Homo sapiens: one gene and its partner. The protein of the gene in region 2 purifies or fractionates together with the protein of the main gene of each other region. This does not show direct contact. Each region holds a gene or a part of one and is shown on either strand. Other genes may lie near its edges.

Region 1 (3,500 bases), about 50 Mb from region 2:
AAATCCCCGCTTTATCACTTATAGCTGTGGAGATCTGAGCAACTTACTTAGTCTTTGTGAGCCTTTGTTTTTTAATCTGTAAAATGGGGAAGATAACTCTTGCTTTATGGGGTCATTGTGAGGAGCAAGTGAGATAACACTTAAATTGCCAAGCTTAGCCTTTAGGACTAGCTGCTATTCAATGAGTGATAGCCCCCTTCTTCCTCTCTTTTCTGGGATCAGAGCTCAAATTTTTGATCTGAGATTTCCATGTTATTCCAGAGTCATGTTAAAATCAAGCTCTGGGACCACAGCTTCTTTCATTTATCCTTATTCCCCTCTAAGGCCACCAAAATATTTCTGGGTCCCTGGGTCTTAGTTCTTTGGAGTATCAGGGTCTTTAAGGGGCCATTCCTCTTGCAGCCCTTGCACCAGAAGGGTGTGGTGCTGAAGGGGTGGAGGCAAGGGGCTCTCCACTCTAAGGTCCTGGCCCCACTCACTGTCACCTCTCTCCCAGTGCCTTTGCTATCCTTTTGTAACTAGCCCAGGCTTGTCCCTCTGCTCTGGAGCAGAGAAGAGTGTCATCTTCCTCTTTCCTCTGGCTCAGAAGCAGGCAGGAATCAGCAGTTTCCTCCTGACAAGGCCCCCTCTGGGTTATGGGAACTAGGCTGGACTCTGCAAGCATTTAACCCTTACGGAGGGTTACATTTCCTCTCCACCTCTCCACATTGGTTACGGCCAGTGGCCATAAAATTTTGGCGTTAAAAAAAAAAAAACCAAAGACTATCTAGTCTAGCTTCCTCATTTTACAACAGTAAGATAACTAAGAAAATAGCTGGCTCTTTACTACTGTGATTAATATTAATAATCATAGCGGCCCATTTATTGAATGCTTATTATGTTCCAGGTATTGTGCTAAGCACTTTACATAAATTTTCCATTTGATCCTCATAATAACCATGAAAAGAAGACAATATTATCTCTATTTTAAAGACGAAAAATTTACAGCTCAGACCAGGTACATAACTTGCCCAAAGTCACACAAGGAGTAAGTGGTAGGACTGATTTTTAATCCCCATCTGGTTTACTTCAAAGCCTTAACCACGACTCTTCTACCACACCAAGCAAATGATGACAGGAATAGAAGCGTAGCCTTGGAATGATGTTTTCTTGCTTCAAGTACTGGTGCTTGGTCCCAACGGCAGGCACCTTCAATTTAGAGTACTCAGAAGGTAGCCGTATGGGCCCCTTGGTCTCATATATTTTTTTCTAGGTTGCAGATCCAGAGCCCTCAGCACTGTGTACAAGAAACCTACTTTTGCACTTCTCACACTCCCTGTTAACTCCCTGTGTAATAATAAACCTAACATTTCCAGGCATGGTGCTAATCTCTCCATGTATTATCTCATCTGATCATCCCATGAGCTAGGCATTATTATTTCCATCTCACAGATAAGAATGTAGAGATGCTAAGGTGCTTCTGAAGAAGGCAGGAAGAAACACAGATGGAATTTGAAGCCTGGCTTTTGTCTCAGAACCTCAAACTCTGAGCCACTACATTATGTTGCCAGCTGTCTCTAGCTCTCTCTCTCTTCCTCTCTCTCTCTCTCTTCCCCCTACTAGATTATAAGATCTGTGAGACTAGTGATCATGTCTTTTTTTTTTCTGAGACAGGGTCTCACTCTGTCACCCAGGCTGGAGTATAGTAGCACAATCTTGGCTCACTGCAACCTCCACCTCCCATGCTCAGGCCTCCAGAGTAGCTGGTACTACAGGTGTGCATCACCACACCCAGCTAATTTTTGGAATTTTTGTAGAGACGGAGTTTTGTCATGTTGCCCAGGCTGGTCTCGAACTCCTGAGCTCAAGCAATCTGCCTACCTTAGCCTGCCAAAGTGCTGGGAGTACAGGTGTGAGCCACCGCACCCAGCCGATCATGTCTTTTTATGTTTGCAACCCCAGTGCCTAGTACAGTGCCAGGCATTCAGAAGATCTTCAATACTACTTGTAAATGAATAGAGGGATGGGTAGATGGATGATGGTGGATGAATAAAGAGAGGGATGAATGGATAGATGGAGGGCTAGGTAGACAAATGGATGATGGATAGATAAAGATATGGAGACATAGATTAAGGGAGAAAAAAGAGGGATGAGTGGATAAAGAGATGGATGAAGGGATGGAGGAAGGGATGGAGGAAAGAATGAAGGGAAGGATCAGGGACAGATGAATGGAGGTTTAGGTAAATAGGTGAATAGATGGATGGATGGATGATGGATGGATGGATGGATGGAGAGATGCATGGAGGGAGAGAGCTAAGGAGGATGGAGGGATAGATGGATAGGAGAATAAAAGGAGGGAAGGAAAGGGGATGGATGAAAGGAGAGATGGGTGGATAAATGAATGGATGATTGGATGGTTGGATGAATGATGGAAGAAGAGTGGATCATGAATACTTTGATGGCAGCACCATGAGCCGCTGACAGGGCAGTGCTTGCCACTGATTTTCTTGTCTCTGCTTTCCTCAGGTCTGGATTCTGAGCTTTTCATCCTCTCCTCTTTTGCCTTTGCCCACACTCCTGATTCTTCTCCAGTTTTCCATCAGTTGGTCAAGCCAGACTCCCTTCCCTCTCCTCTGACTTAGATTTCTGATCTCCACTTGACCCCCTCACTGGGAACCACAGTGGCCTACAGCTCTGTGTGTACATGACCTGGTCCCCATTACTTCTGATGGACCCCATCACCTGCTGCTCTTTCTCTCACATACTCTGATCTGGCTGCAGTTGCCTCCTTACTGTTCCTCAGACACTCCAGGCATGCCCTGAATTCTTTGCACATTCTCCTCACCCTTTCTCTCTCTGGAATGCTTTCTCTGGACACTTGTGTGGCTCCCTTTCTTCCCATCCTCAGTTTTTGCTTAGACACCACTTTCTCAATGAGTCAGTCCTCTCAGCTACTGCCTCTCCCCCTTTCCTGTTTATTTTTCTCTATAGCCATTATCACCATTTGGCAAACTAACATGTATTATGTGTTCATTTGTCTCACCCAACTAGCGTGTAATCTCCATGAGGGCAGTGAGCTTTGTAGGGTTGTATGGTTCACAGCTGAAGCCTGCAGCATTTACAATAGCACCTGATGTGATGTAGGCACTCAATACATATATTTGAAATGACAACAAATCAACACACATATCTCAAGTATCTGGTGTACGTAAGACCCTGCGTTATTGGTTACCACCTGATAACCTGAGTCTGAAAACCTCTTTCATTTCAGGTCCATGGTGGTGTGGGAGCAGATGTGCCCCAGGGCATGGACAGGAAGGTTGGAACCTGTGTCATGGAGCAGGAGCAGAGCGAGGTGTGTGCCTCCTTACCGCCTTGGTGCACTGGACGTCCTTCCCCAGCAGCCAGTTGAGCTCCAGGTTGCCCTCGCCCTGGTAGCAGGACTGCAGGCGCTCCTTGATCTGCAAGTTGATGGCCCGGATAGGGAAGGCACACAGGGCAGAGTCATCGGGCGGGTGGTG
Region 2 (5,918 bases):
GTCTTGAATTCTTGGTGTCCTGAGTGTTGGCTCCCATGAGAAAGACAGGGCTGGGTGTGTGGGGAGAAAGAATGTTCTTATTTGAACTGTGGGAAAAGAGGAGGATATTAATCTCAAAGAAAGGAAATAAAGGGGAAAGGCAGAGAAAAAAAAAAAGAAGATAGAGGAAAAAGGAATGAATTGATTACAGGCTGAAGAAACAAAGAACAAGAAAAAGCTCACCTCTGTTTTTTTAACCGTGAGTCAACTACAACCAATATGACCAGGGTAACTATCACAGTCAAACAGATCAGGATGAGAAAGATGGAATATCCACCTGGTTGGGGATAGAATAAGAATACCAACCCTAAAATACTCTATTCCACCAAGCTGAGATTTCCCATTTCACAAGGGTGGGACCTTCCTAGAATTTTCATCTGGGTTTTCCAAAGCCCTCATTTCAATTCCTCCTGATCCTTTGTCTGTGATCTCCTCCCAACCCTCTCCCACTAAATCACTAGTTCCTCCTCCTTTTTCTGTTAGTATGTCTAATTCTCTACTTCCATTTTCTTAAAATTTAACTACTGTCATACTCTATCCTTCTTTATTTTGATTGTCCCAGTTTTACCCTTCTTGTACCTAGCATTCCTACCCATTTCCTCAGCCCCACACTCAAAAGCCCCAGGGCTATTTTCATTATTTCCCAGCAGAGCCTCAGCTGTTTCTCACCCCAATGGATGATTAGATCATGGCCCCCTAGACTGCTGTGTTTCACCCGACAGGACAGGCCAGCTGCCTCCCCAGCCGCCACATCCAGGGTTGCTCGGAGATACCATGTCTCGTCAGCATTAGGCAGGACGTCCCCTCGCTGAGTGCCCCGCTGCTCCTGCTCACCCCGCATCCACATCACCCACACGGGCTTTGGGTAGAATCCTGAGACATGGCACACAAGCTGCAGACGGCCAGGGCCAGGACTGGGGCCACAGGACAGCCAGGCCTCTGGCTTCACTAGGAAGAAGAAGATAGAAAAAAAATGGAATTTTGAAGGGCACCCCAGGCCAGAGCTCAGAGACTCAGGTGCCTTTGTAATAATACTAAGAGTGATTTAGTAATCACTTCTTTCTCTTGTCTAAGAAACAGTCCTGAACCCACACATCTCATTCTCTAGTCTCTCACTATGTCTTTCAAAATGATGATGAGAGGCAAATTCAAATATGAGAGTTATAGTACTAGGAACAAGAGGGGAGAGAGAGAGTTGGGCTCACCTTTCCGTTTCAGTTCTGACTCCCCTGCTTCCATGAGCCCCGCTAGAAATCGAGGGCAGGTGTGACCAAGAAGGCTTTGCAGTATTTCCTTAATATCTAGGTAGCGATTGAGCACTTTACAGATGTTCTGGGCCCGGATCCCTGCTCCTGGAGATGGCTCCCAGGAAATTCCTTGGAAACTCAGGAAATCTGACCCTTGATATGCCATATTTAAGAAGATTTGTGGGGCATTCATTCTACAGCCAGCTAATATCTGGATCTCGAAGGGGTCTGAGAGTGGACAGGGAAGAGAGATCATTATGGAAAGAATGACAAGGAAGAAAAACAAACAATTTAGACAGTAAAGAGATTCAAGGGAAGAAAAATTTGCTGGGAAATCATATGGAGACTAGAGTTTACTGGCAAAGGGGAAGAAAATTTGTGGGAAGAAAATTTGAAGATAATAAAGATACTTTGAAATAACTAATGGGAAAGTGGTAGATGGGAAGGCTATCAGGAAGATAGGAGATTGGTCATAAATAATTCACGTGAAAGTGGTTAGGTACAGGCCAGTCCATGTCAACACTCAGGCAAAGGATAAAGAAGGGCAGAAAGAGGGTTGAGAAAGGCTGAGTCTGAGGGCAGGAATGAGGGGCAGAAGATCCAGAGGAGACAATCATTCCAAAGAGCCAGACATGAAGCTATATTCATGTTGAGATATGTACATGCAGGCCCTTTTGTGTATATGGTGGAGTGTGGGTGGTGGTGAAGGGTGAAGCAGAGGAGGGAGTGGGAGTCAGAGAGTGGGGAACAAGGTTAGTAAGGTTAAATGATGGTCAGAGTCTATATACTATCTTCCACTTTGGAAAATAGTTGGTGTTCCCAGGCAAATTATCAGCTTAGAGCAACGAACTTACATTCAAGCTGAAATTGACCAGCAGAAGCTTGCACTATCTGGATAAAACTATGGAAGTATAACTGGAACAGTGACTGTAAGTTTTTCAGCTCCTGCTTGCTGAAGTTTCCATGGGACCAGGGCTTCAGAAAGCGGATGGTGCCCAAGACAGTGTCCCAGCCATGAGTCTGCAGGTCACCCAGCCATCCTGAGCCCTCACTGTGTGCCCAGCTGTGGTTGGCAAAGGAGGAAGTTTGGAGCATGCGGAAGGACAGCTGCTCCTCTGCTGCTAGATGATAGGATTGTAGAGCCTGGGGAGCTGAGAGAGAGGGAAATGACAAGTAGAGAGAATGTAAAGGGATGGGAAAAGTGATGCCAAAGGGAAAAAAGGAACCCAGAGATGAGAGACAGTTAGGTAGCTTGTACATACTCCAATACCCTTTTCCTGTGGGGCCAGCTTCCTTTCTCCAAAATCAGAGACAAAAACTGAGACTGAGAGCAAGAATTCTCTGCCTGGAACTAGCCTGAAAGGCATATTCCAAGGGCATCCTAGAAGAGTACTGCTCCCTTCCCCCAGGACCTCCCCAGAGCTTCCTCTCAGCCCTCTGGTGCCCTACCATAGGTATCTTTCCACCTGCACTCTTCTTACCTGCTGTATTTTCCCCAGGACAGCAGAGACCCTCGAAGAGGAGGAACAGGAGCAGCATTGAAGCTCTGTTAAAGGAGGGATTCCTTGGCAGGACACCTGCCCTAATAATTCAGATATCAGTACCCCTCTCCACACCCTCTTGCACTCTCGTCTGACTTCCCTTGCTGTACAGACAGACAAACCTCTCCCTCTGCTGACTTCCCTGTCAGAGAAGCCACACTGCCTCGCTTTGCTGCAGCCTCCCACGGGGTTTTTCATTTCCCCTCTGCCTCTCTCACTGTCTGGCTCCAGATTTTCTCCCTGCTCTTGTGTACATCCTCCCAACCTCCCTAATTGCACTAACTGCTGGAAAACGAGTCCTGGCTTAAAACAAAGTCTGTGGTCTGGCTAGAAGATGGAGTAGCTTTTGGCCTTGTAGAAATCAAATCCATACTTGGCTTGTCAATAATCTAATCTGTGAGAAGTGATGGTAGTCACTCAGTGGTGCCTAGTGACCTATCCACCAGTCTCCCACTTCTACCTCTCTGTGATCCTCTCCTCCGCCTGTATCTCTTCACTCTGCTCTTGATCATGATCAGAAGACACTCAGCATCCTGGATGTAGCTGCATAATAAGCAGGCAACCCTCCATAATCCAACTCTCTGTGCTGCTGAAAAAGGAGCAGCAATGGCAATGCAGATTATCAGAAAATCTAAAGAAAGCTCCTTTTTTTCAGTTTCCCCAGTCAAGCCAACTGTCACTGTTAAAGTGGTCCATGAGTGGGCTTGACCTGGAAGTGGTGAGCTAGAGGGCAGGTAGATTTCACCCATGTTTTACAGGTGGCTCTGGAGGAAATACATAGGGGACTTGGATCCCCATCTCTACCCAAACGAAGAAAGCATGTCTGGAAGTCTGTGGGCCAGCTTTGCCCTGGGTATGAAGAAAGACTGAGGGCAGGCATGAAGCTCCTCATTAGTTCATGGCCTGAGAGCATTGGAGTCCCCTTGCTTGCGTTCGGTTAGAGAGCAGTTTGGGTGGACACAGGGAAGTACCTTTAGAGGACTGAAGTGTTCACTGGAGAATTAATTGAGTCTTTATTTTTGTTTCTTTTTCATTGATATTTGTTGTGACACTCTGAAGGCAGTTGAAATAACATTCCTTTGTTTGGTTTTTATATATTTGTTCAACTGACATTTATTCAGAGCCCACCTATGACCAAAAACAATTGCCAGGCCCTAAGATATCAGAGATAGACATCTTTGGGAAAAAATAAAACAAAATTCAACCCCAAACCTCTACTTTTCTTATACAGTAAATTTACTGAACGGTGGTCAGAATTATTGAAAAAGGTCCAAACCTAGTTTCATCTTATTATCATTTCTAAATTCTAAGTTAAAAGAAAGATAAAAAGTTTCCTTGTTTCCTGAGTAGAATATCTACATTTATTTTCAATACTCTTTCTGTGCTGGAGAGGTGCTGGAGAGGATGTGGAGAAATAGGAACACTTTTACACTGTTGGTGGGACTGTAAACTAGTTCAACCATTGTGGAAGTCAGGGTGGCGATTCCTCAGGGATCTAGAACTAGAAATACCATTTGACCCAGCCATCCCATTACTGGGTATATACACAAAGGATTATAAATCATGTTGCTATAAAGACACATGCACACGTATGTTTATTGTGGCACTATTCACAATAACAAAGACTTGGAACCAACCCAAATGTCCAACAATGATAGACTGGATTAAGAAAATGTGGCACATATACACCATGAAATACTATGCAGCCATAAAAAATGATGAGTTCATGTCCTTTGTAGGGACATGGATGAAGCTGGAAACCATCATTCTCAGCAAACTATCACAAGGACAAAAAACCAAACACCGCATGTTCTCACTCATAGGTGGGAATTGAACAATGAGAACACATGGACACAGGAAGAGGAACATCACACACCGGGGCCTGTTGTGGGGTGGGGGGAGGGGGGAGGGATAGCATTAAGAGATATACCTAATGTAAATGACGAGTTAATGGGTGCAGCACACCAACACGACACATGTATACATATGTAACAAACCTTCACGTTGTGCACATGTACCCTAGAACTTAAAGTATAATAATAAAAAATAAATAAATAAATAAAAATAATTAAAAAAAGAAAAAAAAACTGCAAACAAAAAAACAAAAGAAAAAGGTCCAAACCTAGTTTCATCTTATTATCATTTCTAAATTCTAAGGTTAAAGAAAGATTAAAAAAAGTTTCCTTGTTTCCTGAGTAGAATGTCTACATTTATTTTCAATACTCTTTCTTTTCTACAAATACATTCAAAGCTATAAGTTGCTATGTAAATCTATCTATAAATCGCTATGTAAATCCAAAATTGGTTTCATAATAAAATTATGAACAGTAAACAAAGATAAATATTCAAGAGAATATATAATAACCTACAAAAACAATAATACATAATAAAAAGATTGGAATGACCTATGCCAAACATCAATACTACAAGTAACTGTATTCCTTAGAATTTTTGTTTTGTTTTGTTTTTTCCTGAGACGGAGTCTTGCTGTCTTGCTCTGTTGCCCAGGCTGCAGTGCAGCCACAGGATCTCGGCTCATTGCAACCCCCGAATCCCTGGTTCAAACGACTCTCCTGCCTCAGCCTCCTGAGCAGCTGGGATTACAGGCAAGAGCCACCATGACCATCTATTTTTTGTATTTTTAGTAGAGACAGGGTTTCTTCATGTTGACCAAGACGGTCTCGATCTCCTGACCTCGTGATCCACCCGCCTCGGCCTCCCAAAGTGCTGAGATTACAGGCGTGAGCAACCGTGCCCCGGCCATTAGAATTTTTGAATCAGGCCAGGCACGGTGGCTCACACCCGTAATCCCAGCACTTTGGGAAGCCAAGGCAGGCGAATTCGAGACCAGCCTTGCCAACATGGCGAAACCCTGTCTCTACCAAAAAAAGTAAAAATTAGCCAGGTGCCATGATGTGTGCCTGTAATTCCAGCTACTCAGGAGGCTGAGGCAGGAGAATTGCTTGAGCCTAGGAGGTGGAGATTGCAGGGAACTGAGATTGTGCCACTGTACTACATCCTGGGCAGGAGAGTGTGACTCTGTTTCAAAAAAAAAAAAAAGAGGGAGAATTTTAAAATCATTTGCAAAGTA

What was found. Proteins that work in one complex are often made in the same cells at the same time.
Region 1: the proteins of CD1E (region 2) and PLXNA2 purify together in Homo sapiens (affinity purification with mass spectrometry; 2 studies listed by BioGRID and IntAct, with this or other methods). This does not show direct contact.

Annotation. Positions count from the first base shown.
Region 1 is NC_000001.11:208,213,385-208,216,884, forward strand, and holds part of PLXNA2 (plexin-A2 precursor), read right to left. Parts: coding exon 3,351-3,500; intron 3,335-3,350; exon of another isoform or gene 3,251-3,334; intron 1-3,250. UniProt on the Homo sapiens protein: Coreceptor for SEMA3A and SEMA6A. Necessary for signaling by SEMA6A and class 3 semaphorins and subsequent remodeling of the cytoskeleton. Plays a role in axon guidance, invasive growth and cell migration.
Region 2 is NC_000001.11:158,350,896-158,356,813, reverse strand, and holds the start of CD1E (T-cell surface glycoprotein CD1e, membrane-associated isoform a precursor), read right to left. Parts: upstream 2,921-5,918; 5' UTR 2,826-2,920; coding exon 2,768-2,825; intron 2,438-2,767; coding exon 2,141-2,437; intron 1,515-2,140; coding exon 1,245-1,514; intron 988-1,244; coding exon 709-987; intron 317-708; coding exon 223-316; intron 87-222; coding exon 1-86. UniProt on the Homo sapiens protein: T-cell surface glycoprotein CD1e, soluble binds diacetylated lipids, including phosphatidyl inositides and diacylated sulfoglycolipids, and is required for the presentation of glycolipid antigens on the cell surface. The membrane-associated form is not active.